Homo sapiens: one gene and its partner. The protein of the gene in region 2 purifies or fractionates together with the protein of the main gene of each other region. This does not show direct contact. Each region holds a gene or a part of one and is shown on either strand. Other genes may lie near its edges.

Region 1 (3,500 bases), on a different chromosome or scaffold from region 2:
ATGGGGAAAACCCTCTCTACTAAAAATACAAAAATTAGGTGTGCCTGGTGGCACGCACCTGTAATCCCAGCTACTTGGGAGGCTGACGCACAAGAATCGCGTGAATCTGGGAGGCTGATATTGCAGTGAGCCATGATGGCACCACAAAAAAAAAGAAAACTAAAATAGCGTACCAGTCGCAAAAAATACATATAAATCTATATGTTTTTCATATATTATCGTTAAAAATTTATTACAGCTACTTGATTTTATACAGTTTGTTCCTTCTAAGCAAGGGTGGCTTTTTTTTTTTTTTTTTTTTGAGACGGAGTCTTGCTTTGTCACCCAGACCAGTGTGCAGTGGCACGATCTTGGCTCACTGCAACCTCTGCCCCCTGGGTTCAAGCGATTCTCCTGCCTCAGCCTTCTGAATAGCTGGGATTACAGGTGCCCGCTACCACACCCAGTTAATTTTTGTATTTGTATTTTTAGTAGAGACAGGATTTCACCATGTTGGCCAGGCTGATCTCGAACTCCTGACCTCAGGCGATCCACCCACGTTGGCCTCCCAAAGTGCCAGGATTACAGGCATGAGCCACCACATCTGGCCAAGGGTGGCATTTTAATCTTATTTTCTACATCATGCTGGTGAGCTTCACATACAAAATAGCTGTTCAATGTGTTACTTTGTTAAAAGCCTTCTAGGTGAACACTTGAACATGTTCTAAGTGAATAGAAAATACATCTTTCCTGTGTTCTGCAAATAAGACAATTTGATTCATTTGGATTGTTAATAGAATTAATGCTCATGTCACAAGCTGGTAGAATCATAACTCTCGTGTGAGTTATATAAACCTATAGCTGTTCCTGTGTGGTTTTTATTGTCTCTCATCTCCTAATATATCAGTAAGTGTTTTGTGTACCAATGGTTCAGAAAACATCGGAATTACAGATAGAGGAACTGAACAAAACTTGCAAGCTTACTAATCCATGAGTCTACCTAGAATGAGACTTCACTGATAGTTATATTGTATATGGGTTCACACTTTTTCAGATGTGTCACTATGCAGAAAAGCTTAAGAACTGTTAATAGTTCATATAGAACCCCAAATGGTAGTTCAAGATAAATTGCAGCCACAAAACTTCAGAGATAATTCATAAATAATTAACCTTGCTTGATGAGAGGAATGAGCAGGAGCATTGTTGTGATAGAGAAGGACCCTCTAGTGAAGCTTTCCCAGGCATTTTTCTGCTAAGCAGATGTTATCATTTCTGGCTCTCTAGAAAGTCAACAAGCAAATGCCTTCTAAGCTCTTCTATTATATGCAGCATAGGTTAAGTAGGTTTAATCAATTCTGACAGCTACTGTAAACTCTGAAAGAATAAAATAAGAGACCTACATAATACAGTAAGGATTGCGGGGATTAAATTTAATATAAGCCCTAAATAAGACATTACCTTGGAAAATCACTTTATTTGAAAAGATTGACTTTTTTTTAACAATTCAAAACATTAATACATACTTGCTAAAATTATAGATTTGAACATGTGATATCTAGCCAATAGTGCAGTTTATATTTTATCTGTAAAATGACCTGATGCAAATTACAAATTTTACTCACTTAAAAAATTTAACATTGTAAAAATGTGCTTTCACATTCAAGATAAAAAGGCGAGGGTAATCTGCTTTTGGTTAAAGGATTTCCATATGATTCCATGTTAAAATTAGTTAATATTTTAAAATAAAAATTTCAGAAATTACAGTAAGACATTAAAACATGCATGGTATTCTAAATACGTGCAACTAATTCAGGCTAATTAGAAACAGGTACAGGACTCAGTGTTCACCTACATTTCAAGTATAAGATAGACCTGTGGGGAAAAAGTTAATCTGTACCTTACAGGCAAAGTAATTACATTTTACTTTGCTAATAGAAGCTGTTAACTGGAGTTGTATGTATATTAACAGACAGTAGCTGTAGTTGTATAGTTTAGAAGTGGAAAGTTGCATTTTGAAATGTAATAATTCTATTCTGGGTCACTGTTAGGCACAACATCCCATTGAGCTGTGATGATACAGTATTTAAAATATTTTAACTTTATTCTTATTACTCAGCAATCAGTGGGAACTTGGCAAATATGAGAAGTGCTCGATGAAGACAAAGTACAGGTGTACCTCATTTTATTACACTTTGATTTATTGCACTTCATAGATAATGCACTTTTTTTTCCTTAACAAATTGAAGGTTTTTAGCAACCCTACATCAAGCGAGTCTATCAGCTGAACGTGTTTCCAATAGCATGTGCTCATTTCATGTCTCTTTCTCACATTTTGGTATCCAAACTTTTTCATTATTATTCTGTCTGTTACAGTGATCTACAGTCAGTGATCTTTGATGTTACTATTGTAATCATTTTGGAGTGTGCCCATAGGATGGCATACTTAATTTTTGTGTCTATTCTGACTGCTCCCTCTTCCTTCTCCCTTTTCTCTCCCACTTCTTGGGCCTCCCTACTCCCTGAGATACAACATTACTGAAATTAAGCCAATTAATAACTACAGTGACCTCTTAAGTGTTGAAGTGGAAGAGATGCACATCTCTCATTTTAAATCAGAAGCTAGAAATGATTAAGCTTAGTGAGGGAGGCATATCAAAACCCAAGACAGGCTAAAAGGTAGACCTCTTTTGCTAGTTAAATTATAAATGCAAAGGAAAAGTTCTTCATGGAAAGTAAACGTGCTACTCCAGTGAACACACTAATGATAACACAAAACAGCCATACTGCTAACATAGAGAATGTCTTAGTGGTCTGGGTAGATCAAATTATCTACAACATCCCCTTAGCGAAAGCCTAACCAGAGAAAGACCCTAATTCTTTTCAATTTTATGGAGGCTTAGAGAGATGAAGAAGCTGCAGAAAAAAGTTTGAAGCTAGAAAAGGTTGGTTCATGAGGTTTAAAGAAAACAGCCATCTCCATAACATCAAAATACAAGATGAAGCAGCAAGTCCCGACATAGAAGCTGCAGCAAGTTTTCCAGAAGATCTAGCTAAGATCATTGATGAAGGTGGCTATACTAAACAACAAATTCTCAATGTTAATGAGACAGCCTTCCATTGGAAGAAGATGCTATCTGGGACTTTTTTTTCATGCCTGCTAACACCATATCCATTCTGCAGCCCGTAAATCAAGGAGTAATTTCAACTTCAAGTCATATTATCTAAGAAATACATTTCATAAGGCTCTACCTGCCATAGGTAGTGATTCCTCTGATGGATCCAGGCAAAGTAAATTGGAAACCTTCTGGAAAGGAGTCACCATTCTAGTGTCATTAAGAACATCTGTGATTCATGGAAGGAGGTCAAAATATCAGTGTTACAGGAGTTGGGAAGAAGTTCATTCCAACCTTCATGGATGACTTTGAGGTGTTCAAGGCTTCAATGGAGGATGTAACTGTAGATGTGATAGAAATAGCAAGAGAACTGGAATTAGAAGTGGAGCCTGATTATGTGACTGAATT
Region 2 (3,987 bases):
CACACCTGTAATCCCAGCACTTTGGGAGGCCGAGGTGGGTGGATCACCTGAGGTCAGGAGTTTGAGACCAGCTTGGCCAACATGGCGAAACCCCATCTCTATTAAAAATACAAAAAATTAGCTGGGCGTGGTAGCAGGCGCCTGTAATCCCAGCTACTCGGGAGGCTGAGGCAGGAGAATTTCTTGAACCTGGGAGATGGAGGTTGCAGTAAGCCAAGATCACATCACTGCACTCCAGCCTGGGCAACAGAACGAGACTCTGTCAAAAAAAAAAAAAAATCTTGCTAAAATATAGCTCCCCAAAGTGTTAATAGTGATGCTGGGGCTATTTTAACTTTCTTCTTTATAAGTGCCTTATGTAATATAATGAGTAACTAAATAATTTATAAAAGGTGAATATTAATTCTATAACCAGAAGTATACAATAGATCTATATCCAATTATAAAATAAAATGTTTTAACACATCAGAAGCAAATTGGTTTGACATGTATGCAAACAATAGGAAAACAGCATGACCATTATAAATAAATGCCTGCCAGTTCTTGAACATTCTTCTTCAATTCAACAAGACCTTTTCACTGTTAAGATTCTTCTCTTAATACACAAGCCAGGTGAACAGTGTCTGCAGACTGAATAAGAAAATTTGAACAAAGCAGACAGAAGAGTGTTTGGTTCTCCTCTACTTCTCCAGCAAATAATCAGTTGAAATGTTAATTTAGATATAATGCTTGTTAAATGTCTTTAAATCCTAATATTAGTGAGATTCATATAAAATTTAAAATTTGCGGCTGGGTGCGGTGGTTCATGCCTGTAATCCCAGCACTTTGGGAGGCCAAGGCAAGTGAATCACCTGAGGTCAGGAGTTCCAGACCAGCGTGGCCAACGTGGTGAAACCCTGTCTCGACTAAAAATACAAAAATTAGCCAGGCATGGTGGCAGGCGCCTGTAATCCCAGCTACCTGGGAGGCTGAGGCAGGAGAATCACTTGAACCCAGGAGGCAGAGGCTGCAGTAAGCCGAGTTCATGCCATTGCACTCCAGCCTGGGTGACACAGCGAGACTCCTTCTCAAAAAAAGAAAAAAAAATTGCGTATTATTCTTCATCACTATGACTATTACTTTACTCATATGTACTTTTTATTCTTATGACTAACTCTGTATAAAAATAAATCTCAACTCATGGATTCCTTGGAAAAAAATCCCTGCTCATGTTCACACAGATTTCTATGCTTGGACTTCCAATCACATTCCCACTTCTAAAAGCCTTAAAAGCAGGCGACCATTATCACTTGCTTACTGACACTAGTCAGGTCATCTCTAATCCTGTCATATTTTAAAACTGAGGTCTTTGGAGAAGATTGGAGAAGATGGATGATGTGATTCTACCTAAACATTAATCTCAATAAAACAAAGTTTTAACTTTAGACTCCAGGATATGCATTTCTCTACCATTATAGAAAGTGAGTGCAGAGGAATGATTTGAAAAATGAGAAAGTCATTTGGAGGCCCGTGAAGAGGAGGGTCCACCTGCATGGTCCATTGTTCACTGGAAAGGAAGGCCTGGGATAGGTCACTGGACAATTCAGGAAAAGCAAAGCAATGTTTCCATTTCCTAAAAACAAAAACATTTTATGCATTTATTTAAAGATTTACTTAAAGATATAGACCAGAGAGTTGCAATTTATGTGACAAATAATTTAGTCTTTTTAGATTGAATCAAATGAACTTCTTCAAAGGGAAAAATGCAAATGAAAGCTACAGAAAGTACCTGGGGATGTGATTTTTGTGACTGTGAGCAATGAGGTGACAGGCTCTGTGGTAGATTGTGGCTGTGCTTGACATAGCAGTGTGGTACCACGCCGTATGACTGGGTGCAGGCAAGGCTGTGTGAGGATTAGAATGTGTGATTTCCATTTTATGAATAAAAAGGAAATATAAACTTACCTGGACCTGAACTTTTAGACCTGCTACAACAATTGTTCCCTCCTTTTCAGGATCCCTGTTTTGATGAATAGCAGAATGGGGGAAGAAAAATAATCATGAGACAGCAGGCCTTTCTTAAGAGCACAGACCGACCTAGAATATCCCCTCCAGCGCCACATCTGTGCTGACCTCACGCACATAACAGCTGTGTGAGAGTGAGGCTGGGATCTGTCTCTGAACTCACACCAGGTTTCTAGATCAAAGGTATGGGAATGCAGTGGTTCTGAAACATGCAGCTGCCCACACAGCGGCTCCAACTGCGCAGTCTTCCAACCTGTCGTCCCAGGAGTCTGTTTTAGGGACACTTCTAATTCAAAAGTCCAATCGCCAACCCAGGTCTGTACCTTCTTGCTGGGAACCTTCATCCCAGAGCTCGATATTTGACTTCCCTCTTGGGGACACTGCTGTGTGCAAACACCGAGGCCGTGAGGAGGGTAGAGGGTCAGTGACACACACCAGAGAGCCAGGCACCTGTCTCAGCCTCACACCCGCACCCACACCCGCCCAACCCGGTCCTGACAGGCGCCCCGTCGCGCGCACACACACACATACACCGTCTGCCACATTTTGTCACACAATTTCCCTTCTCCGCTCCCCAAGCACGCACAGGCCTGAGGCTCCCTGCGGGCACGACACGCCAGGTCTGGGCCCTGGAGCGCCTCACTTTGGGCGGCAGTTCTATCCCCAGTCCTACTCGTAAGAGTCCCGTTCCGCCTCACCTAGCTCGGACTTCTCGCCCGCAAGTGAATAATAACGGTTAAGGTGACTGAACCGTTAAGAACGCAATGTAAAGGGCCCTTGGGGTCCAGGCAACACTGCCCAAGGGGCTTCTGGGAAATGTAGTCCACAGCCGGAAACTGATCCTTTTGGGCGGAGGCGCAGGCGCGCGCGCATCCGGCGGGTTCGACTCACTTACCAGGAACCCACGCAGGAAGCTGAGGAGGAGAACAGACGCCTCTGGGCCACTGGCCGGGCCACTTGAGCGTGGGACCGCCGAGTGTGACCCTGAGGCCGAGTGCGTGCGGGACTGGGCGATAGCTCCGCCAGGCAGGATTTTGTTTGTTTCACCTCTTGAGGTAGTCCCGGCGTGTAGTACATAATAGGCGCTTAATATGTGTATTGTAAAGAATGAGTGCCTGGCCATTTGTATTTGCCTTGTGAGCGCGTGTGTGTGGCACTGTGAGGGTTGCGGGACCGACGGAACCTCTCTGGCTCTGGCGGGTTGTGTTTCCGCGTGTGTGTAATTTGAGTGTGAGTCAGTGTGTAGTGAGTGAAGGGATCTGACTGGAGAAAACCACAGTAAATACCCGGGGCTGTGATTTTTGTGACTTTGGTCAATGGGACGACAGGCTCTGTGGTAGACTGGCTGTGCTTGACGTAACAATGTGGTACTATGCCGTGTGGTTGCCGGCAAGGCTATGTGAAGATGAGAATGTGTGATTTGGAAAATCTGGATGTGGAACATCACGGGTGCCAGTGGAATTGTGACTCTGTGTGTGTATAAAAGTTTGCAACCATAGGCCTATATGTCTGTGGGATAAAGAGAATATGTTGCGTCTTCTTGGAGTATCAGCTTTATTTAAACATTTGCATCAGAGAGTTGCGATTTATGTGCCAAAGATTTTTGTCTTTTTATATTGAATTAAATGAATTTTTTACAAAGAGAAAAATGAAAATAATAGTAACTTTCAAAAAATATTAAGAATTTCCTTCCACTCTTATATTCTGGCAATGGATCTTTGGCAATGGGTCTTTGGCAGATCAATTTGAAAAGCTTGGACTGAGGAAATTATACTTGGAAAGCACATTAGGCAGTCAGCCCTTGGTTCCTAAATACCATGCTCCACTGAAAGGAGCAAGGCTCCATGGAGAAATGGCAGATTCCAGAGCTGGGGAAGGGAAAGTTCAGAATGAACTTGGAACATCTTGTGCTTGAAAGTAAGGCAGTGCTCAAAGAATGGTGGGGACGTGTTCAAAGGACATGGAAACCAGATTGAAGGGACT

Evidence for each region. The genes of interacting proteins can lie anywhere in the genome.
Region 1: the proteins of ZNF546 (region 2) and DNAJC10 purify together in Homo sapiens (co-immunoprecipitation; one large-scale study listed by IntAct). This does not show direct contact.

The regions. Positions count from the first base shown.
Region 1 is NC_000002.12:182,722,757-182,726,256, forward strand, and holds part of DNAJC10 (dnaJ homolog subfamily C member 10 isoform 1 precursor), read left to right. Parts: intron 1-3,500. UniProt on the Homo sapiens protein: Endoplasmic reticulum disulfide reductase involved both in the correct folding of proteins and degradation of misfolded proteins.
Region 2 is NC_000019.10:39,995,873-39,999,859, reverse strand, and holds the start of ZNF546 (zinc finger protein 546), read right to left. Parts: upstream 2,801-3,987; 5' UTR 2,703-2,800; intron 2,000-2,702; 5' UTR 1,945-1,999; intron 1,613-1,944; 5' UTR 1,534-1,612; coding exon 1,450-1,533; intron 1-1,449. UniProt on the Homo sapiens protein: May be involved in transcriptional regulation.